Regions from separate parts of the Homo sapiens genome. Here region 2 is linked to region 1. The links come from fine-mapping of genetic effects on gene expression. A gene starts in region 1. The other region holds a variant in brackets. All regions are shown on one strand. Distances are from middle to middle.

Region 1 (16,163 bases):
CAGGGAGACGTGGATTGCAGCAACTCTGGCGCTATTTCCTATCTGGCAGGTCAACAGAGACACAGTGGCCCACACTCTTCATTCTCACACACTGCTGGGGGTAACCCCTAGGGAAGGAAACGTGCTGATGTCAAGCAAACCTGCAAAAAACATTTGTTCTTTCCTAGAACCCACTTCTAGAAATCTATCTCAAAGGTACACAAATACTGAAAGACACGTGTAAGATGATTCGCTGTGGCACTTCATATAATCGCAGAGGATTGAAAACACCACAAGTGACCATCAGTAGGGGATTGGGTGAATAAACTATGTGATAGCTTTAAGGTTGGTGCAAAAGTGATTGCGGTTTTTGCCATTACTTTCGATGGCAAAACCTGCAATTACTTTTGCAGCAACTTAATAAATAACAAAGAAACATGTAGCCAGGAAAAAAAAACCCCAAACCAAAACCAAAACAAAGAACCCCTGAAAAGATTTCTAGGTATTCAGAGAGATTATCTCCAATAAATTTAAGTGAAAAAAAAATCAAGGTACAAAGCAATGTCATGTGTCCTTTTTATAAGACGAGAAAGCCTCCTTTCTCCAGATTTATAGAATAAAACGTAACTCCATAAAGCCAGCTTCTGGAGGTTTCCATGTGTGACCTCCATGACATGAACCCAAAAGATAAAAGGAGTGAAGGGTGTGAATGGGCAGGGATGGGGGCACTGGACATTCAGGGTGAGTTCGGGTTCCGTCAAAAAATCAAGTTGGAGGGAGTCTTTGGCTCTTGGGCCTCTGTGGTAGACAGATGATTAACTTCCTGCTCTCCCAAGAAAGGGGTCTGTGTTCTAATCCCCAGAACCTCTGGATCTACTCCCTTACATGGCAAAAGGGATTCTGCAGCTGTGAGGAAGGCAAGGATCCTGACATGGGGGATGATGCTGGGTGGGCCCACTGTGATTACAGGGGTCCTTATAAAAGGGAAACAGGAGGGTCAGTTCAAAGAAGGATGGGATGAGATGAGAGAAGAAGGGAGCGTGTGTGTAGCAGGGAGGAGATAACATACAGAGAGACTGGAAGATGCTGCCCTGCTGGTGTTGATGATGGAGGAACAAGCCACAGTCAGGGAAGGCTGGTGGCCTCTACAAGATGAAAAACGCAGGAAATGGGTTCTCCCCTAGAGCCTCTAGAGCAGTGGTCCCCAACCTTTCTGGTACCAGGGACTGGTTTCGTGGAAGACAATTTTTCCATGGAGCACGGGGCGGCAGTGGGGCTGGGCAGGGAATGGTTTCAGGATGATGTTTTATAAGCACATTACATTTATTCTGCACTTTATTTCTATTATATTACACAGTAATATATAATGAAATAATTATACGACTCACCATAATATAGAGTCAGTGGGAGCCCTGAGCTTGTTTTCCTGCAACTAGATGGTCCCATCTGGGGGTGATGGGAGACAGCAACAGATCATCAGGAATTAGATTCTCCTAAGGAGTGTGCAATCCAGATCCCTCACATGCAAAGTTCACAATAGGGTTTGGGCTCCTATGAGAATCGAATGCTGCCACTGATCGGCCAGGAGGTGGAGCTCAGGTGGTAATGCGAGCAATGAGGAGTGGCTGTAAATACAGATGAAGCTTCGCTCACCTGCCACTCACATCTTGCTGTGCAGCCCTGTTTATAAGCACTGGTCCGTGGCCCAGGGGCTGGGGACTCCTGCTCTAGAGGGAATGCAGGCCTTCCAGCTTATTGAGGATTTCTGACCTCCAGCAAGGCAAGAGGATAAATGTGTGTTGTTTTAAGTCCCTGAATTTGTGGTAGTTTGTTATAGCATCAATAGGAAACTAACATGCCTTTCACATCACACCTTCCCTTTGGGTGAGTTCAGCAGACCCAGGCAACTGCTGCAGAACTTCCCTACCCTCTACAGGGGGAAGTATCTCCTTTTTCCCCGTAACAGACCTAATGTGCAGGTAGGCACACAGTAGTTCCAGTCACTGAGCTGGGGAGTGAGGGGGGGTTGGCCTCCAGCCAGCTCACTGGGCCTCCAAGAAAAAAACAAGTAGAGAAGGTACCTGGGACATTTTCAGGCCCCAAGTCCCTATTCAAGGCTGTCTGGAAGCAGAAATTTCCCACTAGGACAGGAGGGGTCTCTTCAGTTTACAGATCCTGTGACACCTGCCCTGCCCTGGATACAGTGCTGGAGGATGGTCACAGCAGATGGGCCACTCTATGTCAGCTGCCCAACACAACTTCTGGTGATGATGGAAATGTTCTATAATTCTGCTCTAATACTTGAAATGTGACTAGTATGGCTGAGAAAATAAATTTTATTTTTTTTGGGAGCAATCATCTGATTCCTAAACTACCTCCAAACACCCCCTCTTTTGCCTCTTAAATGTCTTCCTTCTGAATCCTGAAGTCCTTGTTATCTGCATGCTTACACTACATGCAAATTGCATCACCCTCTGGCCCACAACTCTTTAGTGTCTTCCCACTGGCCTGAGAACAGAGTCTGAAGTGAGGCCTAGTATGGTTCTGCCTCCCTCTTGATCTTGGTCTTGGTCACACTTCTTTCCCTATTCTTTTTTTTTTTTTTTTTTTTTTTTGAGGAGTCTCACTCTTACACCCAGGCTGAATGCAGTGGTGCAATCTCTGCTCACTGCAACCTCAGCCTCCCAGGTTCAAGCAATTCTCTTGTCTCAGCCTCCCGAGCAGCTGGGACTACAGGTGTGCACCACCACACCCAGCTAATTTTCGTATTTTTAGTAGAGACGGGGTTTCACCATGTTGGCCAGGCTGGTCTTGAACTTCTGACATCAGGTGATCAGCCCACCTTGGTCTCCTAAAGTGCTGGGATTACAGGTGTGAGCCACTGCGCCCAGCTTCTTTCCCTGTTCTTGTCTCGGCTTCAGCCATCCCTGTGTTCCCAGTGCAGGGAGCGTGGCAGCCTCTCTCCTGCTGCAGGGCCTTTCCTTACACAGCTTCTTCGACGGCAGTGCTCTCTTGGACATAACCCTGTCCCCTCACTCTAGTCGAGCCCTATGACTAGCTACATCTGACCCCAACTTGGAGATGGAGCAGCAATTCCCTTTTTCAGGGGCCTGTGAACCCCAAGTGGGAAAATAAAGGAAAATCCTGAAGTTCCTTTAAGGGAAATTCCGAGCATCCAGCTAGCCCCAAAAGTAAATATGGAACTTGTTAAACAGGAAGGTAATAGTAACCTAAAACAACAGCCAAAGAAGTTAAGGCTCCAGAGATGTTCGCTTTCCCCATGGAAACTAAAGATAACATCTTAACATGCGTCCCTGAGTTGCCTTTCAGAGGCTGGGACTCCCACTGAGGACCCCACCAAATGGAGCTGCTGGCTCAGAGACCCCAGATAAGCGGGACATGAAGGCTGAGCTTCAGCGTTCTTTGTGCTAAGTTTCTTCTTGAGGGGCTTGGAGAAAGTCACTTCTCCCAGCCAGTTAACATTTTCCTACTGACTCTAAATTTTTAAACAAAGCTTCTTTTCTTTAACCAATTACAAATCAGAAAAATCTTTGAATCTACCTATGACAAGCTCCTGCTTCAAGACATCCTTGCCCTTTTAAGTCTAAACCAGTGTGTAACCTCCATGTATTGCTTTATGATTTTGCCTGTAGCTTCTGCTTTTCTGTAACTTACCATTGCCTTCAGAAATCCTTGCCTAGCCGGGCACGGTGGCTCATGTCTGTAATCCCAGCACTTTGGGAGGCCTAGGCAGGCGGATCACCTGAGGTCAGGAGTTTGAGGCCAACCTGGCTAACATGGTGAAACTCTGTCTCTACTCAAAATACAAAAAATTTGCCAGGTGTGGTGGTATGTGCCTGTAATCCTAGGGACTGGGGAGGCTGAGGCAGGAAAATCACTTGAACCTGGGAGGCAGACGTTGCAGTGAGCTGAGATCGTGCCATTGCACTCCAGCCTGGGTGACCAAGTGAGATTCTGTCTCATTAAAAAAAAAAAAAAGGCCGGGTGTGGTGGCTCATGCCTGTATCATCTCAGCACTTTGGGAGGCTGAGGCGGGTGGATCACGAAGTCAGGAGATTAAGACCAGCCGGGCCAACATGGTGAAACCCCGTCTCTACTGAAAATACAAAAATTAACCGGGCATGGTGGTAGGCGCCTGTAATCCCAGCTACTCAGGAGGCTGCGGCAGAACTGCTTGAACCCGGGAGGCCGGGGGTTGCAGTGAGCTGAGATTGCAACACAGTACTCCAGCCTGGGTAACAGAGTGAGACTCCATCTCAAAAAAAAAAAAATTCCTTGCCTAAAAGCCACTGGGGAGGCCAGGATTTGAACATTTAATGTCTGGTCCTCCTTGCTTAGTGCTGTGCAATAAAAGCCTTTCTATCTATCGTAGCAACCCTCAATATAGACATCTGGTTTCACTGCACCACCAGGTGAGCAGACCCCAGTTTGGTTCTGTAACAACTTAAGCTCTCAAGCTAAATATCCTTCCCAAGAAAGCTTCCCTGTTCCCTCTGATCAAGTTCACTAGTGCCAAGCTCCCACATCACTCCTGTCATTCATGGTTTAAAATTTATCTTCCCTGTTAGAAGGTAAACTTTATGTAGGACAGGGGCCATTTCAGGTCCTCCAGGGTCCCTGTGCATCTGACCTAGGACCTGACTCATGGAGGCGACCTGGTTTGCCAAGGATTGTCCCGGTTTGAACACTGGATGCCCTGTGCCCTAGCAAACCCCTTGGTCCTGAAAAAATGAGGATGGTTGGTCACCATTAACTGTGCACTCAAATAATATCTATTGCATGATAAGTAAACATTCCTTCAAGAATGCTGTAGGAAAGCTAGAATGGAAAAGGTGAACACACACACAATTAGTAGAAACCCCACAATTTAATACTAGATTACTTAACATGATTCTCTGCAATATGAATCACCATACTGTTATTTCAGAGAAGTTTTAAGAAACAAAGTTAATTCCTATTAGGAGGTGATATCGTTGGCTCTGTGTCCCCCCACCCAAATCTCATCTCGAGTTGTAATAATCCCTATGTGTCAGAGGAGGGTCCTGGTAGGAGGTGACTGAATCATGGGGGCGGACTTCCCCCTTGCTGTTCTCCTGATAGTAAGTTCCCACAAGATCTGATGGTTTAGAAGTTTGGCGTTTATGTCTTCTCTCTCTCTCCTGCTGCCATGTAAGACGTGCCTTGCTTTCCCTTTGCTTTCTGCCATGATCGTAAGTTTCCTGAGGCCTCCCCCGCCATGCAGAACTGAGTCAATTAAACTTCTTTCCTTTGTAAGTCACTCAGTCTCAGGGAGTTATTTATAGCAGTGTGAAAACTCTCAGGTAGTTCTTTATAGCAGTGTGAAAAAGGACTAATACAGGAGGCAAGGTGCAGAGGACAATCTTTTTGGAAACCAGTTCCCTACCCTTCAATCTATAAGTTGTTGCTTAATATTCTTCCAAATGTTTTCAAATCTCATTAGGAAAAAAAAAATCCCATTACTCAAAACACATCTGGTCGCCGGTCAATTTAATTTTAAATTTGTTACTAATAAATCATCCTTTTTACAAATGCCCTTATATTTTGAAGTTTGGTGGAGGGCCAATATGCCTTTAGAAATCAAATCAACAGCTGGGTGCGGTGGCTCTTGCCTGTAATCCCAGCACTTTGGGAGGCTGAGGTGGGCGGACCACTTGAGGTCAGGAGTTAAAGACCAGCCTGGCCAACATGGCAAAAACCTGTCTCTACTAAAAATACAAACAAAATTAGCTGGGCGTGGTGGCACTTGCCTGTAGTCCCAGCTACTCAGGAAACTGAGGCAGGAGATTTGCTTGAGTCTGGGAGGTGGAGGTTGACATGAGCCAAGATCGCGCCACTGCACTCCAACCTGGCCAACAGAGTGAGACTTGGTCTCAAGAAAAAAAAAAAAAGTCAAATCAAACAGGCCTGAAAAATGTTGCTAAGTAGTCCTGCTAGTTGTTAGTGGGAAGACTTGTAACACTACATATACATGTAAATATTTTCTATACTTATATAAAATTCAGAAACTTTTAGCATTACGGCATACCAGAAAATCTGTCTTTAGCTACAGTTACACATCTTTACGTTATTTGTATGTTTGTTTTGTGGATACTTATTTGCATGTAACTGTATTTACTTATTTACACACATGTAACCATAAACACCTCTGTCTTTTTACCTTGAACTTTCCTTAAGATACCTTCACTCTTAGTGACTTCAATGTGGTTACAACCCCAGCACAGGAAAAGCCCACGAGGAGTTCTTCTACACAGCAGAGCCTGCTGAAACCTTGTTGTAGGTTCCACACTGTACTCACCTGGTCACCCAAAAACCCACAACAACAGGTGGACCTTGTGGCAGGCTTCAACACGAATCTGAGCTTGAATGATGCTTTTCTCATCTGAAAAAAAAAAAAAGACACAAAGATTTCTTTCGAGGCTTTGTATAGGTTGTACAGTTGTTGGATACGGCTGCCGGAAACACCATCCCATTCACTTTTTTTGGGTACTCAATGATTAAATGTGTAATAAGGGCCCAGCCTGTGGGCCATGACTGGCTTTACCTGATTCCCATCTGGCCATCTGCTCCGTAAGAGGGGAGAAAGCAGCTTAACGCTGTGTGCATTTGACTTGCTCAACTTACTACGCTGGAGAGAGATTCTATGGTGACTCCACAGGCTTTAAAAATATCTTGTCACTTAGAGGCCCTATTAAGTGACTAAACTGAATTTTTAACAATTTATGTAGTTTATTCAGAACTGCAGAGATTTTTTTTTTAAGGCCCTAGAGCAGGGTTTCCCAACCTGGCACTACTGATAATTCTTTGTTGTGGGGGACTGTCCTGTACAACGTAGGATCTTTAAGAGCAAGCAGCGTCCCTCTTCCCCGGCCTCCACCCTCTAGGTGACAGTAGCAGCCTCCCCTCCCCACAATTTGTGAAAACCACAGTCGTCTCCAGCTACAGCCAAAAGTCCCCTGGGGTGCGGAATCGCCCCGGGTGAGGGCGACTGGGGTTCCCTGAGGAGGCAACAGCGGCGCGGGGCCCCGACCCAGGAGCAAGCAGCAGCTTCGTGCTGACCTAAGCTCACAGCCCGAGGCCTCATGAACCGAAACACGGCTCCCTGGAGGGACGCAGGGCCCGTGGCTGGCGGTGTCCGCGGCCCACGTCGCCCCCTGGACTCGGACCCGAGCCCCCGCCAGTCGCTCACCGAGCCCGGCCCCTCCCGCGGGGCCAAAAGCGCCGACTCGCGGGGACGGAGGGACTCGCTCCCCGCTGCCCCACGCGCGGCCCCTCCCACGGTACCGCCCCGCGCTTCCGCTTCCGGTCTGGGGAGAGGTGCGCTGCACGTCCCCTTCCGGCTCGCGCGGGCAGCCTCGCAGAGTCGAGCGTGTTGGGGGTTCGGCGCTTAGGCGACAGGCGCGGCGGGCGGGAGCGGCGGCCGCGAACCCCAGCCTTGGGCAGAGGTGTTCTAGTTTGCTTAGTGGGCACAAAGTTGGGCCCTGGCCTGGGGCAGTAGCGGGGGTAAGGTTGGCCCTGGGGGCGGGGCCAGGCTGTGAGCCGCACGAGGCCTGGGGGCGGGGCTGGTTGTGGGCGGAGATCAGTTCCGGGGCGGGGCTGAAGGCGGGGAACCGGCTGAGGCCGTACCAGGCCTGGAGGGCGAGGCTGATTGGGCAGAGACCAGTTCCAGGGTCGGGGCTGTGGGTGGGGCCCAGTTCTCGGGGCGGATGGTATAAGGCTTCTAGAGCGGGGATGACTGAGCAGAGACCAGTTACAGGGGTGGAGACCTCCATTTCCGGGGCGGGGCTGAGCGGGAACCAGGCTGTGGTTGTGACAGCCCTGGAGGTTGGGGCTGGCTGTGGGCGGAGATAAGCTCCGGGCCGGGCGGAGGGCGGGGACTAGGCTGTGGGTGTACCGGTCTTGGAGGGCAGTGGTGATTGGCAGAGAGCAGTTCTAGGGGCGGAGCTATGGGGTGGCAGCAAGCCTGGGGGCGGGGCTGACTGTGGGCGGAGACCAGTTCTGGGGGCGGGACTGTGGGCTGCACCAGGCCTGGGGAGGGGGCAGTGGGTGGAGACCAGTTCCAGGGGCAGGGATCTGGGTATGAATAAAAGGGTGTATGATGTGGGTGGGTTGGGATAGGCCCAGGAGCCAGGATTGTGGGAGATCAGATTCAGGGGTAGGGCCTTCCTTGGATCCCTAGATTGTTGATACAGTTACTGCCCCATGTTCATACAACCCAATAGGATCAGATTATGTATGCACATTTGTCTATAACTTGCTTTCCCAAGGCAGAACATAGTGATTTAACACTAAGAGTTTAGGGGAGCAGGAGAGGACTGGGTCATAGATACACATATAGGAAAACTTAAGAATGGTACAAAGTCAGTCAAATATTCTCCCACCACGGTCTTTCAGTTCTTTTGCTCAGAGGCAAAAATAATTTTCTCCTCTATCTTTCCAGATATAGTGTGGACATGTATGTGTGTGTATGTGTGTATGCCGTAGTCATATTCATGGAATAAATGCTATTACCTCCCCCCCAACAAGTCTCTGTTTTATACACCATGGATATAGACTGAACAAAATAGGTAAACGTCCTTGCCCTCAGAGAACGTGCATTTTAGTTGTGAGTTGGGCAGGAGAAATGGACAGTGAATGTGATAAATAGAATACATGGTGGGTTGGTGCGTTAGATACCACTAAGTGCTGGTTGGACCTGGTGGCTTACGCTTGTAATCCCAACACTTTGGGAGGCCGAGGCAGGCAGATCACCTGAGGTCAGGAGTTCGAGACCAGCCTGCCAACATGGTGAAACCCCGTCTCTACTAAAAATACAAAATTAGCCGGGCGTGGTGGCGGATGCCTTGTAATCCCAGGTACTTGGGAGGCTGAGGCAGGAGAATAGCTTGAACTCGGGAGGTGGAGGTTGAAGTGAGCCGAGATTGCAGCCGGTGCACTCCAGCCCGGGTGACGAGCAAGACTCCATCTCAAAAAACAAAACAAAACAAAAACCAAAAACCATAAACAAAAAAAGATACTGGTAAGTGCAAAGGGAAAAAATTTTATGTAAGAGAGTGGTAACATTTAAAATCAGCCAGGAAGAAATACTTTCAATGAATGATATTGTTTCATGCACCCGTCCTTTCAGAAAAAAATAGTTAGATCTCTGCTTCCCAAAAATATCCATTTTCAGGTGGCTGAAGGAAGTTTAAGCAAAAATGAACAAGTTCAAAATTCAATATACTAGGAAAGTTCACTGTGGAAAGACTGTTCTCTTCAACAAATTGTGCTGGGACAACTAGATGCCAATATACAAAAGAATGAAATTGGGCTGGGCGTGGTGGCTCACGCCTGTAACCCCAGCACTTTGGGAGGCTGAGGCAGGCAGATCACGAGGTCAAGATATCGAGACCATCCTGGCTAACATGGTGAAACCCCGTCTCTACTAAAAATACCAAAATTAGCTGGGCGTGGTGGCGGGCGCCTATAGTCCCAGCTACTCGGGAGACTGAGGCAGAAGAATCGTTTGAACCCAGGAGGTGGAGATTGCAGTGAGCCGAGATCACCCCACTGCACTCCAGCCTGAGAACAGAGCGAGACTCCATCAAAAAAAAAAAACAAACCAAAACCAAAAAAAAACAAAAAAAAAACCAACCAACCAAGAAACAAACAAAAAACAGAGAATGAAATTGGACCTCTACTTCACACCATGTACAAAAGTGAGCTCAAAATAGATCATAGACCTAAAGGTAAGAGCTAAAACTATAAACTTCTTGGAAGAAAACATAGGTGTCAAACTTTGTGATCTTGGGTTAGGCAATTGTTTCTTAGATATGACATCAAAAACAGGTGGCGAAAGAAAAAATATATAAATTGGACTTAACATTAAAAAACATTGATGCTTCAAAGGACACCATCAAGAAAAAAGACAAACATGGACTGGGTGAAGACATTTACAAATGATTTATCTGATACATGACTTGTATTCAAAATATATAAAGGCTTGCGACTCAGCAATAAAAAGATACCCAATTAAAAGTGAACAAAGAGTTTTTTTTTTTTTTTCTTTTTGAGGTGGAGTCTCCTTCTGTCACCTAGGCTGGAGTGCTGTGGCACCATTTTGGCTCACTGCATCCTCTGCCTCCTGGATTCAAGCGATTCTCCTGCCTCAGCCTCCCAAGTAGCTGGGACCACAGGCGTTCACCACCACGCCTGGCTAATTTTTGTATTTTTAGCAGAGAGAGGGTTTTGCCATGTTGGCCAGGCTGGTCTTGAACTCCTGACCTCAAGTGATCTGCCCACCTTGGCCTCCCTAAGTGCTGGGATTACAGGTGTGAGCCACTGCACCCAGCCTGAAAAATGAACAAAGAGTTCGAATCGTCATTTCTACAAAGAAGATACACAAATGGCAAATATATACATGAAAAGATGCTCGGCCCCATTAATCATTAGGGAAGTTAATATCAAAACTTCAATAAAATACTACTTCACACCCATTGGGATAATTAAAATTAAAAAGATAGCCAATAACAAAGATTGGCAAAGACAAGGAGAAATTGGAATTCTTATACATTGCTGTCAGGATTGTAAAATGGTGCACCCACTTTGCAAAATAGTTTGGCAGTTCCTCAAAAAGTCATAGAGTTGCCACGTGACCCAGCAATTTTATTTCCAGTATATGCCCAAGAGAAATGAAAACATGTGTTCACATGACAGCTTGTACATGAATGTTCATAGCAGCATTATACATAATAGCCCAAAATTTTGTATGTCCCAAATATCAGTCAACTGATGAATGGATAAATAAAATGTGGTATATCCACACAACGGATTATTATTCATCCATTAAACAGAATACATATTCCATGGATGAACCTTGAAAACATTACGGTAAGTAAAAGAAGCCACTCATAAAAAACCCACATTTTGTATAATTCAATTTAAATAAAATTTCCAGAATAAGAAAATCCAAAGAGACAATAGATTAGTGGCAAATGTTGGGGAAAAGGGAAATGAGGGGAAGTGGGTAATGGTATGGATTTCATTTTAGATGAAAATAAGATTAGATAGTGGTGACGATTGCGCAACTGTGTGAATGTACTAAAAACCATTTTACACAAAAGTGTAAAAACTGTACACTTTAAAAGGTTGAATATTATGGTAGCTCAATAAAGTTTTTATTTAAAAAATGTAGAATTATACACATAAATTCTTCAGTTAGGCATAATAAGAGAATAAAAGTGGAAAAATAAAATACTACATAAATATGAGTGCTTCTTCCTCAAAATAATAGAAGAAAAGTGGAAAAAGTAAAATACTACAAAAATGTGAGTTCTTCTCTTCTTCCTCTTCCTCCTCCTCCTTTCTTCCTTCTTCCTTACTCCTCCCCTTCCTCCTCCTCCTTGTCCTCCTCCTTCTTCTTTCTTCTTTCCTCCTCCTCCTTCTTCTCTTCCTTTTCCTCCTCCTCCCCCCCTCTCCTCCTCCTTCTTTCTTCTTTTTTCTTTTTTTTTGGAGACAGGATCTTGCTTTGTCACCCAGGCTGGAGTGCAGTGGTGCAAACATGGCTCATTGCAGCCTCGACCTCCTGGGCTCAAGTCATTCTCCCTCCTCAGCTTCCCGAGTAGCTGGGACTGCAGGCGTGCACCACCACGCCCAGCTAGTTTTTGTATTTTTTATAGAGACAGGGACTCGCCACACCACAGAGGCTAGTCTCGAACTCCTGAGCGCAAGCAATCCCTTTGCCTTGGCTGCCCAAAGTGCTGGGATTTTAGGCATGACCCCATCGTATCCAGCTTAAGTGTATCTTAATTTTCCACACCATCACATTATTAAATGGCAAAACAAACTGGGGATAAATAATTGTAAAAATCTATGACATGTGGGCTCATATCATTATTACATAAAGAATATTTTGGATAAATAAGCAAAAGATGAACAAGCCAGTAAAAACATCATCAAAGACAAAGGCTATGAACCACACACTCCTTTACAAATACATACAACTGCCCAATACTCTAATTAGCAAAGAGGCATAAATTAAAATAATGGCATTATGTTTGTGCCTCTCAAGTAATGCAAAACATTTTAAATGGCCAGTTTGTCAAGACATGAAGAAATGAATGACCTCGCCCTCTGCTAGCAGCATTGATAAGTACCAGTTTCTCAGCAGGTACTTGGTAACATATACCCAAAGCTGTACGAATGTGCATATTTATCAACCCAGCAATTTTACAGTGATCTAAATCAGAGAAATGTTTGAACCTTGTTAAAAAGGATTGATCATCTACCTCCTATTTAATATGACAGAAGATTAGTAACAATGGCAAAATAAGTACTGGTGTAGCCGTATGAAATGACATTCATGGGCCTTAAAACAACAATGTCAATGTACATTTAGTTATATTAAATTACAATCGGGATATATTGTTAGATGTGAGAAGCTGGCTGCAGAATGAAGTCGGCAGTGTGTATCCATGTTGTAACCCACAAAGTCTAGGAATATAAAATTCCAGGGCTCGACAACCACTTAATGCCTGGACCCTTTCTGCCTCGAATGGGGGTGGCTAGAAACTTCTCTGGCTGGAGGGCAGAAGGCAGAGTGCAAAGTTTTGCCTCAAGCCTTGTGACAGGGATAAAGACCCTCACCCTTCACACTGGCCTCATGGACAAGACAAGTTCTTGCTTTCCCACAGAGTACCTGAGATCTGAGGATACTTTATACTCTGATAGTCACTTCCGGCTACCTTAATTCTGCTAGAGTAAAAACAACTAGTAGCTTCCACCTAACCAGATGACGCATAAAATAATTGCTACTAAATATTTCATTCCATATTTTGGTTAGTAAGGAAGAGAAGGAGGTAAAGAAACTTGAAGTGAAACAACTGGAAGGGACCAAGATGGAGCAGGCAGAGTTCCTTATACACAGGAGACAGCAAGGCTGAAATTCTACCCAGAAGATCAGCAGCCCTGGCCAGGCACGGTGGCTCACGCCTGTAATCCCAGCACTTTGGGAGGCCGAGGCGGGCGGATCATGACATCAAGAGATTGAGACCATCCTGGATAACATGGTGAAACCCCGTCTCTACTAAAAATACAAAAAATAAGCTGGGCGTGGTGGTGCACACCTGTAGTCCCAGCTACTCAGGAGGCTGAGGCAGGAGAATCGCTTGAACCCAGGAGGCAGAGGTTGCAGTGAGCCGAGATCGCATCACTGCACTGCACTCCAGCCTGGACGACAGAGCAAGACTCCATCTCAAAAAAAAAAAAAAAAAAAAAAAAAAAAAAAGATCAGCAGCCCCACTATCACCTTCCTCCAGGGCAAGGCCACCTGTGGAAATGACAGATGTCAAATAATCCCCAAAGGAATTGCTAAGGATGGAGATGTCCCATGGAAACAAACTGCATATTGCCTAACCCTCTCCCGAGGACATGGATATATTGAGATAGTAAATGTTTTGAAGGCTATGCAACTCTGCAAACAACCAAGCATGCACAGAACACAGGCTGTCTGGTGATAACTCCTAGATAAGCACCAATATAGCACCTCAGCCACAGATGGCATGCCACACACAATGAATTCTAAAAGTCTATTTTAACCTGCGATGGCCAACATATTCTCATGTGTGCATGCAATCAATGTAAAAATTATTGAGACGTTTTAGGTGCGACTGGCTGGGGCTGGCATTGTTGGTGGTAAAATAATTTCCCAAGACAGTCGTAGGTAAAGAAAGACAGATTTATTAGAGAAGATATGAAGATAGGTTGCAAGGATGCAACAGGCAGCACAGAAGAGAAGGGGCCATTTGCAAAGAGGCAGAGGTTGGAGGGGATTTTATAGGGTCGTGCTGGAGGCGGCTATGTGCACGTGAGGTGTGCAGATAAGGTCGTGTTCCTGGGACTATGTGCAGACCGAGGTCTTTTGGAACAGAATGTCATGCCAGTGGGTTGTTTGCAGTTAGCCATCTCTCAGAACAATTGTTCTCCCCCAACCAGGGGCCCTTTCCTTGTTGTTGGTTACTTATCTTATTAGGACTCCACATGAGACCTTTTAAATGATTTTTGTTTTTTGTAATGAGTTCCAGAAATCCAGTTCGTACTTTCCACTGATGGCACATCTCAATTTGCGAGTTGAATGTTATCAGATGTACTTGCCCCGTATTTAGATTTTCTTTTTTTTCTTTTCTTTTCTTTTTTTTTTTTTTTTTGAGACAGAGTCTCGCACTGTCGCCCAGGCTGGAGTGCAGTGGCGCCATCTCGGCTCACTGCAAGCTCCGCCTCCCAGGTTCACGCCATTCTCCTGCCTCAGCCTCCTGAGTAGCTGGGATACAGGTGTGTGCCACCACACCCACCTGTATTAATATTATGGCTAATATTTTGTATTTTTAGTAGAGATGGGGTTTCACTGTGTTAGCTAGGATGGTCTCAATCTCCTGACCTCATGATCTGCCCGCCTCGGCCTCCCAAAGTGCTGGGATTACAGGTGTGAGCCACCGTGCCTGGCCATATTTAGATTTTCTAGGGTTCACAGCTGTAAAGTAAGATTCACATGTCCAGGTTGTTCCAAGCATACTTCAAAGCTTTCCACTTCAAGAGTCATGTCAGATGAATAATGAGAATTCCTTTGGGATCTAACAACAAAGGGGTCATTGTGGCCTTAGCAACAGAAGCAGCTGAGAACGGTGAAGGAAAACAGAAGTTTGGGGTGGCCTGAGGAGTTGCTGGAGGTGAGGAGATAGGAGACATAGATGTAGATGATCTTTTCTCAGTGGTTCATAGCTAAGGGGAAGGGATAGGCAGTAGTGGTGAAGGAGGGGGTCCCAGGAAGTTTAGGAGAGGAGTGTCTGTGTAGCTCGGAGAAACTTGAACATGTTTAAATGCCGAAGAAGGGATTCAGTAGAAAAACAGAAGTTAAAGATATGGGGGCATCTGTAATCCCAGCACTTTGGGAGGTTGAGGCGGGCAGATCATGAGGTCAGGAGTTCGAGGCCACTCTGGCCAACATGGCGAAACCCCATCGCTACTAAAAATACCAAAAAATTAGCTGGACATAGAGGTATGTGCCTGTAATCCCAGCTACTTGGGAGGCTGAGGCAAGATAATTGCTTGAACCCGGGCAGTGGAGGTTGCAGTGAGCCCAGATCATCCCACTGTACTCCAGTCTGGGCTATAGAGCGGGACTCCGTCTCAAAAAAAAAAAAAAAACAAAAACAGATGATACAAAGGTTACATTGCAATATTGGAAGCATAAAATTAACAAAAAGGAAGAAGGAATGAGGCTCAGATCACTCTTGGTGGATAAAGGAAACATATTTATGTATTTATGAGACAAGGTCTTGCTCTGTTGCCAAGGCTAGAGTACAGTGGCCTGATTGCCGCTCACTGCAACCTCGACCTCCTGGGCTCAAGCTATCCTCTTCACTCGGCCTCCCTCACTCAGCTGGGACCTCAGACATGTATCATCACCCCCAGCTAACTTTTTAATTTTTAGTAGAGATGGGGGTCCCCCTACGTTGCCCTGACTGGTCTCAAACTCCTGTGTTCAAGTGGCCCTCCCGCCTCAGCCTACCAAAGTGCTGGGATTAGATGTGTGAGCCACCATGCCTGGCAGGAAATCTCTTTAAATACAATTAAAGGAAATTTGGAAACATTCAATGCTTATCAGGGATATTTGCAGATTTGGCAACTAACGTCTTTGGGAACCATCAGGTAAGTTAAGGAGAATTAAATATCTATGAGGAAAAAAGAAAGCTGGAGAAAATTTTGCAACAGGTTTTGGGGAAAATCAAGGAGTAAACATGACAGTGCATACACAGAAAATAAAGTTTCTACGCATGATGGATTCTTCCCAGTTGATGGAGAATATTTTGTATTTATAGTGGCACTAAGACGTCATGTCACGTGATTCTTTTTTCAGCAGTGATCATATGACGGTGGTAGCCATGGCGTCACAGAGAACAGGGACCTTCCAAGTTTGAAGTTTTACAAGGCAGGTGTGATAAGTGGTAAGGAATTTTGGATTAATCTAAATGAATTTTTTTTTTTTTTTTTAGACAGGGTCTCATTCTGTTGCTCAGGCTGGAGTGCAATGATGTGATCTCTGCTCACTGCAACCTCCACCTCCTGGGTTCAAGTGATTCTCCCACCTCAGCCTTCCGAGTAGCTGGGAC
Region 2 (17,033 bases), 27 kb before region 1:
TGAGCAGTGGTTTGTAGTTCTCCTTGAAGAGGTCCTTCACGTCCCTTGTAAGTTGCATTCCTAGGTATTTTATTCTCTTTGAAGCAATTATGAATGGGAGTTCACTTATGATTTGGCTCTGTGTTTGTCTGTTATTGGTGTATAAGAATGCTTGTGATTTTTGTACATTGATTTTGTATCCTGAGACTTTGCTGAAGTTGCTTATCAGCTTAAGGAGATTTTGGGCTGAGACAATGGGGTTTTCTAGATATACAATCATGTCGTCTGCAAACAGGGACAATTTGACTTCCTGTTTTCCTAACTGAATACCCTTTATTTCCTTCTCCTGCCTAATTGCCCTGGCCAGAACTTCCAACACTATGTTGAATAGGAGTGGTGAGAGAGGGCATCCCTGTCTTGTGCCAGTTTTCAAAGGGAATGTTTCCAGTTTTTGCCCATTCAGTATGATATTGGCTGTGGGTTTGTCATAGATAGCTCTTAGTATTTTGAGATATGTCCCATCAATACCTAATTTATTGAGAGTTTTTAGCATGAAGGGTTGTTGAATTTTGTCAAAGGCCTTTTCTGCATCTATTGAGATAATCATGTGGTTTTTGTCTTTGGTTCTGTTTATATGCTGGATTACATTTATTGATTTGTGTATATTGAACCAGCCTTGCATCCCAGGGATGAAGCCCACTTGATCATGGTGGATAAGCTTTTTGATGTGCTGCTGGATTCGGTTTGCCAGTATTTTATTGAGGATTTTCGCATCAATGTTCATCAAGGATATTGGTCTAAAATTCTCTTTTTTGGTTGTGTCTCTGCCCGGCTTTGGTATCAGGATGATGCTGGCCTCATAAAACGAGTTAGGGAGGATTCCCTCTTTTTCTATTGATTGGAATAGTTTCAGAAGGAATGGTACCAGTTCCTCCTTGTACCTCTGGTAGAATTCGGCTGTGAATCCATCTGGTCCTGGAATCTTTTTGGTTGGTAAGCTATTGATTATTGCCACAGTTTCAGCTCCTGTTATTGGTCTATTCAGAGATTCAACTTCTTCCTGGTTTAGTCTTGGGAGAGTGTATGTGTCGAGGAATTTATCCATTTCTTCTAGATTTTCTAGTTTATTTGCATAGAGGTGTTTGTAGTATTCTCTCATGGTAGTTTGTATTTCTGTGGGATCGGTGGTGATATCCCCTTTATCATTTTTTATTGTGTCTATTTGATTCTTCTCTCTTTTTTTCTTTATTAGTCTTGCTAGTGGTCTATCAATTTTGTTGATCCTTTCAAAAAACCAGCTCCTGGATTCACTAATTTTTTGAAGGGTTTTTTTGGTCTCTATTTCCTTCAGTTCTGATCTGATTTTAGTTATTTCTTGCCTTCTGCTAGCTTTTGAATGTGTTTGCTCTTGCTTTTCTAGTTCTTTTAATTGTGATGTTAGGGTGTCCATTTTGGATCTTTCCTGCTTTCTCTTGTGGGCATTTAGTGCTATAAATTTCCCTCTACACACTGCTTTGAATGTGTCCCAGAGATTCTGGTATATTGTGTCTTTGTTCTCATTGGTTTCAAAGAACATCTTTATTTCTGCCTTCATTTCATTATGTACCCAGTAGTCATTCAGGAGCAGGTTGTTCAGTTTCCATGTAGTTGAGCAGTTTTGAGTGGGTTTCTTAATCCTGAGTTCTAGTTTGATTGCACTGTGGTCTGAGAGACAGTTTGTTATAATTTCTGTTCTTTTACATTTGCTGAGGAGAGCTTTACTTCCAACTATGTGGTCAATTTTGGAATAGGTGTTGTGTGGTGCTGAAAAAAATGTACATTCTGTTGATTTGGGGTGGAGAGTTCTGTAGATGTCTATTAGGTCTGCTTGGTGTAGAGCTGAGTTCAATTCCTGGGTATCCTTGTTAACTTTCTGTCTCATTGATCTGTCTAATGTTGACAGTGGGGTGTTAAAGTCTCCCATTATTATTGTGTGGGAGTCTAAGTCTTTTTGTAGGTCACTCAGGACTTGCTTTATGAATCTGGGTGCTCCTGTATTGGGGGCATATATATTTAGGATAGTTAGCTCTTCTTGTTGAATTGATCCCTTTACCATTATGTAATGGCCTTCTTTGTCTCTTTCGATCTTTGTTGGTTTAAAGTCTGTTTTATCAGAGACTAGGATTACAACCCCTGCCTTTTTTTGTTTTCCATTTGCTTGGTAGATCTTCCTCCATCCTTTTATTTTGAGCCTATGTGTGTCTCTGCACGTGAGATGGGTTTCCTGAATACAGCACACTGATGGGTCTTGACTCTTTATCCAATTTGCCAGTCTGTGTCTTTTAATTGGAGCATTTAGTCCATTTACATTTAAAGTTAATATTGTTATATGTGAATTTGATCCTGTCATTATGATGTTAGCTGGTTATTTTGCTCGTTAGTTGATGCAGTTTCTTCCTAGTCTTGATGGTCTTTACATTTTGGCATGATTTTGCAGGGGCTGGTTCCAGTTGTTCCTTTCCACGTTTAGTGCTTCCTTCAGGGACTTTTTTAGGGCAGGCCTGGTGGTGACAAAATCTCTCAGCATTTGCTTGCTTGTAAAGTATTTTATTTCTCCTTCACTTATGAAGTTTAGTTTGGCTGGATATGAAATTCTGGGTTGAAAATTCTTTTCTTTAAGAATGTTGAATATTGGCCCCCACTCTCTTCTGGCTTGTAGAGTTTCTGCTGAGAGATCCGCTGTTAGTCTGATGGGCTTCCCTTTGTGAGTAACCCGACCTTTCTCTCTGGCTGCCCTTAACATTTTTTCCTTCATTTCAACTTTGGTCAATCTGACAATTATGTGTCTTGGAGTTGCTCTTCTTGAGGAATATCTTTGTGGCATTCTCTGCATTTCCTGAATCTGAATGTTGGCCTGCCTTGCTAGATTGGGGAAGTTCTCCTGGATAATATCCTGCAGAGTGTTTTCCAACTTGGTTCCATTCTCCCTGTCACTTTCAGGTACACTGATCAGATGCAGATTTGGTCTTTTCACATAGTCCCATATTTCTTGGAGGCTTTGTTCATTTCTTTTTATTCTTTTTTCTCTAAACTTCCCTTCTCACTTCATTTCATTCATTTCATCTTCCATCACTGCTACCCTTTCTTCCAGTTGATTGCATCGGCTCCTGAGGCTTCTGCATTCTTCACGTAGTTCTTGAGCCTTGGCTTTCAACTCCATCAGCTCCTTTAAGCACTTCTCTGTATTGGTTATTCTAGTTATACATTCGTCTAAATTTTTTTCAAAGTTTTCAACTTCTTTGCCTTTGGTTTGAATTTCCTCCTGTAGCTCGGAGTAGTTTGATCGTCTGAAGACTTCTTCTCTCAACTCGTCAAAGTCATTCTCCGTCCAGCTTTGTTCCGTTGCTGGTGACGAACTGCATTCCTTTGGAGGAGAGGCGCTCTGCTTTTTAGAGTTTCAGTTTTTCTGCTCTGTTTTTTCCCCATCTTTGTGGTTTTATCTACTTTTGGTCTTTGATGATGGTGATGTGCAGATGGGTTTTTGGTGTGGATGTCCTTTCTGTTTGTTAGTTTTCCTTCTAACAGACAGGACCCTCAGCTGCAGGTCTGTTGGAGTTTGCTCGAGGTCCACTCCAGACCCTGTTTGCCTGGGTATCAGCAGCCGTGTCTGCAGAACCGCGGATTTTCATGAACCACGAATGCTGCTGTCTGATCGTTCCTCTGGAAGTTTTGTCTCAGATAAGTACCCGGCCGTGTGAGGTGTCAGTCTGCCCCTACTGGGGGGTGCCTCCCAGTTAGGCTGCTCAGGGGTCAGGGGTCAGGGACCCACTTGAGGAGGCAGTCTGCCTGTTCTCAGATCTCCAGCTGCATGCTGGGAGAACCACTGCTCCTTCAGAGCTGTCAGACAGGGACATTTAAGTCTGCAGAGGTTACTGCTGTCTTTTTGTTTGTCTGTGCCCTGCCCCCAGAGGTGGAGCCTACAGAGGCAGGCAGGCCTACTTGAGCTGTGGTGGGCTCCACCCAGTTCGAGCTTCCTGGCTGCTTTGTTTACCTAAGTGAGCCTGAGCAATGCGGGCACCCTTCCCCCAGCCTCGCTGCTGCCTTGCAGTTTAATCTCAGACTGCTGTGCTAGCAATCAGCAAGACTCCATGGGCATAGGACCCTCCGAGCCAGGTGCGGGATACAATCTCCTGGTGTGCCGTTTCCTAAGCCCATCGGAAAAGCGCAGTATTTGGGTGGGAGTGACCCAATTTTCCAGGTGCTGTCTGTCACCCTTTCCTTGACCAGGAAAGGGAACTCCCTGACCCCTTGCACTTCCCGAGTGAGGCAATGCCTTGCCCTGCTTCAGCTCGCACACGGCGCACTGCACCCACTGTCCTGCGCCCACTGTCTGGCACTCCCTAGTGAGATGCACCCAGTACCTCAGATGGAAATGCAGAAATCACCCATCTTCTGTGTCGCTCACTCTGGGAGCTGTAGACTGGAGCTGTTCCTATTTGGCCATCTTGGCTCCTCCCTCCTAATTTTTCTATTTTTAGTAGAGACAGGGTTTCACCATGTTGGTCAGGCTAGTCTCGAACTCCTGACCTCGTGATTCACCTGCCTCGGCCTCCCAAAGTGCTGGGATTACAGGCATGAGCCACCGTGCCCAGCCCCTAAACTCTTAAATAGTTTTAGTCTGTAAGAGAGAATACTCCTGACCTAAATTGGCCAGAAGCCCCTCTCAGGTTTATTCCCAAAATAAACCTGTCTTTGACTGTTGAGCTGCTTTTCCTGTTTCTTTCTTCAACTCTTACACTCAACATATAGAGAACATCAAGAGTATCAATAAAGAGATAGAAATTACGAAAAGGAACTGAATAGAACTTGAACCATATCCCTGTATTTTCCCTGTCCAACTCCCCCTAAGCAACCACTAATCTACTTTCCATCTGTATAGATTTATCTATTTTTGACATTTCATAGAAATGGAATTACATATAGTTGGTCTTTTGTGAGTAGCGTCTTTCCCTTAGCACAAGGTTTTCATTCATGTAGACACATCCTTCCCACCTCTGTGGCTGAATAATACACAATGTATGAATATATCACATTAAAAACACTCATTTATAAATTGATGGGCATTTGGGTTGTTCTGGTCCATTTTTTGCTGGTCCAAGCTTCACCTTCAGATCAGTTACCTGTCTTTTTTTTTTTTTTTTTTTTTTTTGAGACAGGATCTTGCTCCACAGAACAAATCACAGCTCAATGCAGCCTTGACTTCCTGGGCTCAAGCAATCTCCTGCCTCAGCTTTTTGAGTAGCTGAAACTACAGGCACATGCCACCATGCCCAGCTAATTTTTTTTTGGTAGAGATGGGGTCTTACTATGTTGCCCAGGCTTGTCTTGAACTCCTGATCTCAAGTGATCCTCCTGCCTTGGCCTCCCAAAGCACTGGCCTTAAGGTGTGAGCTACAGTTCCCATCCTATTATTAAATATTTTCAAACAGGGAGATAATTTGAAATAATTTTACAAGTGAGCATCCACTTATAGACTGAATTGTCCCCATCCCCTCACCCCCCAAATTAATATGCTGGAGCCCTAACCCCAGTACCTCAGAATGGGACTCTATGTGTAAGATCAGGCTTTTTTTTTTTTTTTTTTTTTTTTTTTTTTTTTTTTGAGATGGAGTCTCACTCTGTCACCAGGCTGGAGTGCAGTGGTGCGATCTTAGCTCACTGCAACCTCCGCCTCCCAGGTTCAAGCGATCTCCTGCCTTAGCCTCTGAGTAGCTGTGACTACAGGAACGTGCCACCATCCCCAGGTAATTTTTGTATTTTTAGTACAGACAGGGTTTCACCATGTTGGCCAGGATGGTCTCAATCTCTTGACCTCATGATCCGCCCACGTTGGCCTCCCAAAGTGCTGGGATTACAGGCATGAACCACCGTACCCGGCCAAGATCAGGCTTTTAAAGAGGCAATTAAGTAAGTTAAAATGAGGCTTTTAGGGTGTGCCCTAATCCAGTTTGGCTGGTGTTTTTATAAGGAAATTAGGACATAATAGACCAAGAAGCATTGTGGTGCACAGACAGAAGGGGCAGCAAGGGGGTAGCCATCTGCAAGCCATGCAGAGACCTCAGGAGAAACCAACCTTGCCAGCCCCTTGATCTTGGACTTCCAGCCTCCAGGACTGTGGGAAAATAAATTTCTACTTTTTATTTATTTATTTTCTTTGAAATGGAGTCTCACTCTGTTGCCCAGGCTGGAGTGCAATGGTGCGATCTTGGCTTACCGCAACTTCTGCCTCCCAGGTTCAAGTGATTCTCTTGCCTCAGACTCCCAAGTAGGTGGGACTACAGGCATGCACCACCATGCCCACACGATTTTTGTATTTTTAGTAAAGACGGGGTTTTGCTATGTTGGCCACGCTGGTCTAGAACTCCTGACCTCAAATGATCCACCACCCTCGGCCTCCCAAAGTGCTGGATTACAGGTGTGAGCCACTGGGCCTGGCCCAAATTTCTACTTTTCACCAGCAAGTCTGTGGTATTTTATAGTAGCCCTACCAAACTAATATAATCTACCATCTAGATTCCATCAGTGATACTTTATTATACTTGCCTGACCACATTGATCTCTGTATCATTCATCAACCCATCTTTATTTTTATTTTTTTTTTGCATTTTGAAGTAGTTTGCAGACAGCAATAGATTTCTCCCCTAAACATTTTTAACATACATATCATTAATTAGAGTTCAAAATTTGGGGCTGGAAGATCTCTTTCCAAGGTGGCTCATCTTCTGCCTAGCAATGTGGTGCTGGAAAGTTGGTCCTTTGCCACGGCGCTGCTTGAGTGTCCTCATGGCATGGTGGATGGCTTTCTCCAGGGAGGGAGCAATTGAAGAAACCGAGGAAGCTTCAGTGTGTCTTATGACCTGGCCTGAGATGCCACACATGGTCACTTCAGCAGCAGCACTGTATTGATTATATGGGTCATCTGATTAAATATTGGGGTGTGTGTGGGGTGCTACACAGGACAGGAATCTCAGGTGGCAAGGATCCTTGGTGAGCATCTTGAAGGCTAGCGAACACATCCACCTTTCCTCCAGACCACCTCATCAGCCCAGAAATCCCCACCCCCTGTTATCTTTTTTTTCTGCTGTAGAGCCTGGTTTCATTGTAGCTGTCTGGGGCCTCTGGCATTTTTATGGCTGTGTTTGGGATAAGTTGCAAGGTTTCCTTTCCCCTTTCTCCCCTCTCTGTTCTTCTCAGCCTCACCCCCAGCTTCACCCTTCCTTTTCCTCTCAGGGCCTTTCTGAGCAGTTGATGCTCTGAGGGTCAGCTGGGAATGCAGCCTATAAGAGCGGTCTGCTGGGTGCAGAAAATGTTGGGGGAAGGTTTGCTTCCTGGGCTCCTGTCACCTCCTGTATTATGGGAGCTTGGGGGCATATGCTGGCATGTTGGGACTACTGTTGTCTTCCATGTTCTAACATTCCCTGGGAAAGGAGACACTTGGTTTGATGGGGCTCTACGTATCTGCTATCAGGTGGGGACAGACATCTGCATTGCAAGAGCAAGCTGAAGAGTTGCCTACTAGGGCTCAGCTGGTTTCTTGTGTTTGGAATAAAGAGGGCTCACTGAAGGGGCAGTCATCTTATGTTAGGGAAGACTTGAGGGACTCACACTGTGGGCTCTCCTCATTTATGTTGAGAGTGTTGCTTCCTGATGCTTCTGTCAACTCTTATTTTGTAATAATCGAATGAGAGGTAGAACCTGGCGGGTTGCCTGTTGAGATTCTCATGATTGTATTGGGGGAAGGCTGTGGTATCCTTGCTGGGGATATTTGTGTCTGCTCTTGGGGAGACAAGGGAGGCAAGCTAGGGTTTGTGTTGAGTGAGAGTGTTGTGGAATTTGGAGCTTTCTTTAGTATGTAGGGGATTGGAAATTGCCTTTTTGGGTTTCCTTCATCTAATGTTAGAGGAATATAGGGGGGTCACTTGAAGTTCTCATCTGATGGAATCCTCATTGTGTTGAGGGGTGTAACTAAGAGGCTGGAGGTACGAGCTCCTGTTTTTTAGGGCCTGGAGGATCACTACCTTTGACTCCCATTTTTTAAATATTGGGGAGTCAGGGAAGTGTACCTGGATGGAGGTCCCATTGTCTTAGTTTGGGAAGAAGATGGGTTGTTATTCTGTGGGGGTCCACTTATCTCTGTCCAGTGGGTTTGGAAGGGTCTCTTTTAACCTATTTTATCTAGTGTTGAGGGGGTTACTAGAGTCACTTTCTGGGTCTTCCTTATTATTGGTATAGATGAGGTAGGTCACTGGGCTTGGGATCCTCATTCTTTAGTGCTGAGGGGCAGCTGAGGAAGTCACTTGTGGGATTGCTGTCATTTCAAGTATCAGACATAACTGGAGGTGCTTATTGAAATTTCCATCAGTTCTAGTTTTGGGAGGATGGATGTCTTGCTTTCTCAGTATCTTTTGTGTTTGGGGATGACACCTGCTAACTGAGGTCTTGTTGCCTCTAGTTTTGGAGGGGCCTGATGACCCCTTACTAGGACTTCTATCATCTCTATTGTTGGATGCAGACTATACGCACCACTTGTTGGGCCTTCCATAATCACTAGTCTTGTGTGTTTGTGTGTGTTGGGGGAGAAATCTCCTGCAGTGCTTTCCACCACCTCTAGTTTGGGGAGATCAATGCAATGTGTTTTTAAAAGCATTTTATTTTGGAAAGTTTAGATATACATAAAAGTTGTAAAACTATACAGGGTTGTTTTATACAGTCAGTACTGATTTATATTTACTTGCATCTTATGTTTCCTGTTGATCT[T/C]AATTCCTGGAATTATGTATGTCTCTATGGAATCATTTTCCTGAAGCCTGAAGAAATCTCTTCAGTGTTTCTGAAAATACGGTTATGCTGTTAATTCTCTCAGCTTAAAAAAATCCCTCCCAGGCCGGGCGTGGTGGCTCACGCCTGTAATCCCAGCACTTTGGGAGACCGAGGTGGGCAAATCATGTGAGGTCAAAGGATCGAGACCATCCTGGCCAACATGGTGAAACCCTGTCTCCACTAAAAATACAAAAATTAGCTGGGCGTGGTAGCACACACCTGTAGTCCCAGCTACTCAGGAGGCTGAGGCAGGAGAATCACTTGAACCCAGGAGGAGGAGGTTGCAGTGAGCCGAGATCATGCCACTGCACTCCAGCATGGCGACAGAGTGAGACTCCATCTCAAAAAAAAAAAAAAAAATATTCCCTCCCATTGGAAAACATTGTTGCCTTCAGTTTTGAAGAATATTTTCTTAGGTTACAGAACTTTTGATTGACAATTTCCCCCTCCTCCAACCCATTTAACCCTTTATATGTCAGATGTCATTCATTGTCTTCTTGCTTCCATAGTTTCTTTTGAAAAGTCATCATTAGTCTTACTGATGCTGCTTTGAAAGCAATGTGTCCTTCTTCTTTGGTTGTTTGGTAGATTTGCAGTTTGTCTCTCATTTTCTATGGTTTGTCCATGTTTCCTCCATTTCCCTTAACATATTATTCTTGGTTATTTTAAAGTCTTTGTCTGCTAACTCCAATACCCAAATTGTCTCTGGATCTGCTATTGATTTATATATTCATAAATGGGGATATTTTCCTGTCTCAATGGATGAAGGAGAGTGAGGTCTGACCCTGGCTATTTCCTGCAGGAGGACCTGGGGCTGGATGCTATCGCTGACTGACCTCTCTCAGCTCCTGGAATGCAGCCCTCTCCTCTCGTCTCCAGATTCAGTTGCTCCCTCCCTTCGTCCCTTCAGGCTGTGAGGTGTTAGAGCTCTGCCCTGCTAAGCTGCTGGGTGCTTTACAACTTTTTGTGGTTTCCCTGGATCCTGTCCACAGGACTGAGTAGACCCTTTATGAAAACTCTACTTGAATTGTCCTAGTCTGTGGGTGTCAACCTGAGTTCCTGCTGGGACCCTGACTGATGTGCCAACTCACTGAAATAAGGAAAAGTCCTAACAATGTCTCAGAAAACCCAACAAGATCAGGATCTACCATGTCTCTGACCACATCATCTTTTACTGCTCCCTCATCACCCCTTTGTTCCACTCCAGCTGTATTGGCCTCCTTGTTGTGGGCCTTTGCATGCCAACACTACTCTTGCAAGACAAATTCATATGACTCACTGTCCCAACTTGTTGAGATCTCCGCTCAAATGCTCCTTACCAAGAGGCTTTCTTTTCCTAGTTATATAAAATTATTATTCCCAACCCCCCTTAACTCTCCTAAAATGCTTTTTTTTCCTATAACTCTATAATACCATATTTTCTTGATTTTTCTATAATCTGTTCCTCCTCCATTAGGTGAAGTATTTCAATGGCAAAACTTTGCCTGGCACACAGAACATACTCCGTTAATAGGGTAGTGGTTAAGTGCATGGACTGTCTGGGTTCAGATCTTGGCTCTACCATTTACCAGTCAGTGAATGCAGGCAAGTAACTTAAGTGTATCATACCAGTTTTCTCATCTGTAAACTGGGGATAATAACATTACATACTTAAGTTTATAATGCATACTGAGTTAATACTTATATGTCATTTAGAAGGGGGCCTGATCTATGGGAAGTGCAATATAAATGTCTGACCATCAGGAGTTCGAGACTAGCCTGGCCAACATGGTGAAACCCCATCTCTACTAAAAATATAAAAAAATTACCTGGGCGTGGTGGCAGGTGCCTGTAATCCCAGCTACTCAGGAGGCTGAGGCAGGAGAATTGCTGGAACCTGGGAGGCCAAGGTTGCAGTGAGCCGAGATCGCACCATTGCACTCCACCCTTGATGACAAGAGTGAAACTCCATCTAAAATAAATAAATAAATAAATAAATGTTTGACCATTTATTATTAATGCATTACAATACTTTGCTATGTAAAAATATCATCTCCACATAAAAAGGAATACAGAATACCTAATCCTGTATGCATCTAGTTACATAATGTCAAAATATATAAAAATGACAAAATTACAGTGTTAATACATAAACATAATGGAAGAGTTTACCACACCTCTATCACTAAATAAGGTTAGAAAAAGAAATCTGAACATACGTACTGTACTTGGAAATACAATTAAGTTGCATTAATGTTCATATACCCTATATCCAAATATTAGAGAATATACATTGTTTTCAAAGAAACAACATGGGTAAAACTTGACCAATTTATAGGTTTACCAGTTAGATTCTGCATCCTGCTGGAAGTTAACAGAACACCACCTCAAAAACAAACAACAGATCATGTTGGCTTCAATCAGTTAGGGGTTTCTTTTTTTAAAAATATTTATTTGTTTATTTTGAGATGGAGTCTCGCTCTGTTGCCAGGCTGGAGTGCACTGGCGCCATCTTGGCTCACTGCAACCTCTACCTCCCAGGTTCAGGCAATTCTCCTGTCTCAGTTTCCCGAGTAGCTGGGAATACAGGTGTGCACCACCACACCCAGCTAATCTTTATACTTTTAGTAGAGATAGGGTTTCACCACGTTGGCCAGGATGGTCTCAATCTGTTGACCTCATGATCCACCCACCTCAGCCTCTCAAAAGTGCTGGGATTAAAGGCGTGAGCCACCACACCCAGCCTAGGGGTTTCTTTTAGTCACATAAGAAGTATAAGAATAAGGAGTCCAGAGCAGATGCAGCCAATCGGAGGCTCCTGGAGAGCCCAAAGCATTGTGATTTTTGGCTGCACTTTGGTTTCTGTCATTGTGGTCAAAAAGAAGCTCTTCAAACTCTAGACCTTGAGGCCACTTTCCAAGAGACAGAATGGGTGAGGTGAATGGAAAATATGTGAGGAGAACAAGCCAGGAGATGTTCCACACAGTGACTTCGACTTACTTCTCATTGCCAGGGGAGTGCGAAAAAACCCGCCTGGGCTTCAGGAAAAACTATAAGATTGAGAACTTTCGATATTGTTCACAGACAACTTGAACAACATGTTTGTTTCTTTAAACGAATAAACTGAAGAGAACGGACACTGGGAAAGAAACCAACAGTATTTGGCATACCAAGATAGAGAGAAAATAATCAGTATCATAAAGCTCATGTACTCTGCCAAAAATACCACTACATTAGAAAAATGTGTTTATAAATACTAATTTCCATTATGATAAACTGAATCACTCAGAAGGTATTTGGAAATAACTTTTTGAATATGCAATGTGTGGATGTCTTTAACAAGCAAATTAATTATAATAAATACATTGCATTAAAATTATGAAATATGTTAATGTTTATTTTAGGGAACAGCTATACACAAATGTTTATATTAAAAGAAAAAAAGACTAAAAAAATTAATGAGCCAGCAGTCCAATCTACAGATGAGACACTGATAAAGGATATCCCACACTCAAAACAGTGATTATACTTTTTGTTCCCAGTGAAAATTGTGGCCACTCAGTGAAGAGTTCAGGCTGAGGCATCCTAACACTGATTACATTCCTAGGGGTTTCTCCATATAAGTTCTCTCATATACAAGAAAGAGAAGAATCACTGAAAAATTTTCCAATATTAATATACTCATAGGTTTTGCATCCAGGGAGAAGTTCCATATTTTCCCTAACACAGAGGCATCACTGAAGGCTTTCTCTTCTTCTTTATATTTCAAGTTTCTCTGTAGTGTGAATGCTCACAAGTTTCCTAACAAATGTAGAAAAACAGAAAGCTCTCCAATATTGATGATGTTCAATGGGGCATTCTCTCCAGAATTAATTCTCAAGTCCCTTAAAAACCGATAGAACATTCAAGGCTTTCCCATAGTCACTGCAGAATACCACACTATAGTTTGCTCAGTAATGTGAACACTTTTGCTGTAGGGTATTCCGCATTTCTGAGTGTTGTTCCATTGTGTGATTTCCAGTGCGTCTTAAGGGATGACTGTCACTGAAGCCTTCTGAGACCTTCACAGGTTTTCTCCCTTAGTGTGAGCTGTCACATGAATCCCTGCTGATAGCACTGAAGGCTTTCTACAGCTGTTCCATTCTTCAGGATTCTCTCAGTACATAATCTTCTGGGCCCATGAAGGTGAGAATTCGAGCTGAGAGCTTTACCATACAGATTGTCCTCAAAAGGTTTCTCTTCAGAGTGAATTAATAGGAGTTACTGAATGCTATTTCATATTGATTAGAGTAGAAGGATGATGTGCTGAGGGCTTTTCTTCATTAATTCCATGGCAAATTTCCCAGATGCTTCTGAGTTATCTGTTTCCTGGTATTCATACCTTCTGCAGTCTCTCACATTGTATCAGGATTGGTGTGTTGTGAGACCAACACAATAGGAAATAAGTGAAAGCTTAGCAGTCCTCCTGAGGATAGGTCATAAAAGCCATTTTGGCCTCTGTATTGGTCCTCTCTTGGATCACTAACCTTGGCGAGAACTTATTGCCAAATTGTCAAGGAGCTGGGCCTTGTAAAGAGGCCTACATGGTAATGACTGAAGGTCCCCTGACAACAACCAACATCAACTTTCCAGGCATGTGAATAAGTCATCTTGGAAGTGGACTGTTCATCAGTAAAGATGTTAGATGACTATAGCTTTGGCTGACATCTTGATTGTAAGTAAAGGCATGAGAGATCCTGCAGTGTAACTACAGAGATAAGCTGTTCTTGAATTCCTGATCTGTAGAAATTGTTAGAGAATAAACATTTCGTGTTTGAAGCCACAAAATTTGCGGGGATCATTTGTTATGCTGCAACAAATAACTTATATATCCAGTGTGAGCTCTCTCAAACTATCTTAGGGATGAAAGATCAATGAGTGCTTTCCTCCAGAAGTTCCTGCAGTAATTCATATCCATCTATTATGTATTCTCTTGTGCACAGAAAGATAGGAGTTACTTGTGAAGGATTTCCCACAATGATTACATTCATAGGGTTTTTCTCCAGTGTGAGTTCTTAAGTGTTTCTTCACAGCTGAGAGATTATTAAAGGCTTTTCCACAGTCACTGCACTCGTAGGGTTTCTCTCCGGTATGTATTCTCTTGTGCACAGTAAGAGAAAAGCTACTGCTGAAGGATTTCCCACACTCGTTACATTCATAGGGTTTTTCTCCAGTATGAGTTCTTACGTGCTGTGTCAGATAGGAGCTCTTCCTGAAGGTTTTCCCACAATCGTGACATTCATAAGGTTTCTCCCCTGTATGAATGCTATTGTGCCCAGTGAGAGAGGACCTTGTGCTGAAAGCTTTTCCACACTGATTACATTCATGGTGATTCTCCCCCGTGTGAATCCTCTTGTGGCTTTTGAGGTTACAACTGGTGCGGAAAACGTGAAAACACTGGTTACATTCATAGGGTTTTTCTCCAGTGTGAATTCTCAAATGCAGTCTAAGGGATGAGGGATCACTAAATGCTTTCCCACAGTGATTGCATTCATAGGGTTTCTCCCCATTATGGATTCTCTTATGAATAGTAAGGTAAGATCTGCTACTGAAGGACTTCCCACATTGACTACAGTCATAGGGTTTTTCTCCAGTATGAATTCTCTTGTGCTGAGTTAGGTTAGATTTCGTGCTGAAGACTTTAAAACACTGATTACATTCATTGAGTTTCACTCCACGATGACTTCTTTCCTGTGGATTAAGAGATGAATGATAACTATAATTTATAATATTTGAAATACTTAATGTTCTCCTAGGAATCTTCTCTCCCAGGAATTCTGTTACATTATTATAATTGATATTTTGGCTACTTTCAGTGGTTGTATGTGATTTCTGCCCAGTTTTAGCTCTAAGAAAGTTAAAAAACATAGATGCTTTGCCACAAGTCCTTATCAGATGCACAAAACATTTTCTGATAACGTGTGGATGAAGTTTTGTTCCAACAGTCAATATCTGAGCCACAGATAGGAAATATTTACTTGTGGGAACTCTCCGTGAAGAAATAAGTTTGGAGCTAACTCACACTTCTCTAAATATTTATAATTTTCACAGTGTCTCTCCAGGAACACAGCATTCTCAATTATAAATGACACTTTCCTTTAATGCCTCTCCTGGTTATTTTGTGCCCTTTCTAAACTTAAGGCATTCTCCTACTGTAGAAAACCAGAAATCACCCATGTTAGTCTTACCGTTTTTACACCTTTAGACTGTTCTTTTCTGAAAACATTCTTCTTAGGAGTTAACCATTTGGCTTTAAGTAGAGTCTCCAAATCTGAAACAAATTGAAAAGAAATTTAGGTTGATGGAGAAAAGAAATGGAAAAGTGTACACATGAGTAAAGGCAGATTCTGAGGGATCAGGGTTTTTGAGGATGTTTGCAACAAAGAGGATTTGGTTATGAAAATTTTAGGTATTAATTTTAAAAAAGGATTCTAGACAAATTGAGATTGATCACAGATTGACAAGAGGAGTGATCAGGAATGCAAAGTGGAAAGGAACTTGACTGAAATTTTCAAAAGAGTTGCATCTTTGTTTCTTCCCTGAGCCCAAAGTGAAGTATGAGATGATGACAAGGGAGTTAGAGAGAAAAGAAAGGACATGAGGAAGCTCACACCAAATGTTCTCGTGCATGTTTGTCAGGAACAGGGTATTTTACAAAGTTCCCTGATTGACATGAACTAATGTAATACTCCCAACCCCCAAGTCACTGGCCAGAGCTATTCCTCACAAGGGCTCATATCCACCTGGTGCTCACCTGGACAGGTGCTTGGTAGAATTCCTCTTTCCTCTGTCACCACCTTCTTGTCTTGTTCCAACTGGGATATCAGACTGGGTTTATTAACACGACACCCTATTTATGGAAACAATACACATGATATAGGTAACAGTGCTGGGGACAACCAAGTCCATGAAAGAAAGCCAACATTTATGAAGATGGAAAAGTGTGACTTTAGGAGCAGTGAAATAAATTATGCCTTAATTCTTTTCTTTTTTTTATTTATTTTGAGATGGAGTCTTGCTCTGTCGCCCGGGTTGAAGTGCAGTGGCATGATCTCGGCTCACTGCAACCTCTGCCTTCCAGGTTCAAGCGATTCTCCTGCCTCAGCCTCCCAAGTAGTTGGGACTACAGGTGCACACAACCACGCCCGGCTAATTTTTGTATTTTTAGTAGAGACGGGGTTTCACCATATTGGCCAGGCAGGTCTTGATCTCTTGATCTCCTGGCCTCGTGATCCACCCACCTTGGCCTCCCAAAGTGCTGGGATTACAGGCATGAGCCACCACGCCCTGCCAATTATACCTTAATTCTAGTGCATATGGTAACTCTCACTGAACAAAAATGCAACAAGCATATTCAACTAGATATTCAGGGTGATAGGGCATAAACAGCCCCAGAAGGCCATGCCTGAGTTCAAATGCACACTTCAGAGGCCCCAAAACTTTTAACCATGAAGAATATAAAGTCAGGACAAGAAATAGATCTTCAGTTCATAAGGCAGGAATTAGAGACTGCCCATGAGGGTGGGACCATATGGTCCCATTCATCACTGTACTCCCAAGTCACTGCACAGACCTAGGAACACAGAGGTGCTCAAGAAAACTTGAAAGAAGTGATGACAGTGACAGTGGTGGAGGACGGAATTCCAAACGTTCATCCCTCCACAAAAACAGTGAGTAAACTGGCAAAAGCGGTCCGAATCAACTTTATCGGAATTCTTGAAATGTATCAAAAGTCCACAGCAATCAGGAGAATGCCTTCTCAGAAAACCCAGCTGAATCTGGGTAAGAGAGCTTTATGATACTTTAAATGGACCTCTTTCCCCTGCTTTTTCTACAACCTTGAAGACAACAGCCTGCATTCCTAGTACTTGCAGGGAGCAGAACAGACCTTACTCTGTGGTTGCTCTTCCTGACCTGTCTGGTGGTTCCCTGAAGGACTGGCTCAAAGGGTTGTCTTTATTTATCTAACTCCAAATTCTTTCAGGACTGAGCTGGTTACCTGGAACACACGTGATCGACAGATGTAAAGGTAAATGTATTAGTCAGTACTGCTTGAGGCAAGAGAAAACAGTAGAAGCAAACAAAAGACTAACCGAAAAGCCTGAAAGGAAAAATGGGGAAAAAGATGTTTGGGGAGTAGGACTTTGAAAATCTTCCTCATATTCTTAAGAACCTGTAAT

Evidence for each region. PIP is the estimated chance that this variant, and not a neighbour inherited with it, causes the effect.
Region 2: its variant is fine-mapped to the expression of ZNF558 in whole blood (TOPMed, PIP above 0.99).

What each region holds. Positions count from the first base shown.
Region 1 is chr19:8,825,002-8,841,164 of GRCh38, forward strand. ZNF558 (zinc finger protein 558) reads right to left here and starts at 7,303. Exons shown (of 10, transcript NM_144693.3): 1 at 7,208-7,303; 2 at 6,317-6,400; 3 at 1-107. It overlaps MBD3L1 (methyl-CpG binding domain protein 3 like 1), which reads left to right and starts at 7,376. Exons shown (of 3, transcript NM_001393532.1): 1 at 7,376-7,521; 2 at 15,914-15,998. RefSeq lists silencers at 7,083-7,352, 7,853-8,112.
Region 2 is chr19:8,797,520-8,814,552 of GRCh38, forward strand. It overlaps ZNF558 (zinc finger protein 558), which reads right to left. Exons shown (of 10, transcript NM_144693.3): 8 at 15,608-15,703; 9 at 15,042-15,124; 10 at 8,651-14,544. The coding sequence ends at 13,762. Among named protein-coding and RNA genes, the nearest start is that of ZNF558, 26 kb to the right of the region's middle. The variant T/C (reference allele first, on the strand shown) is at 8,776.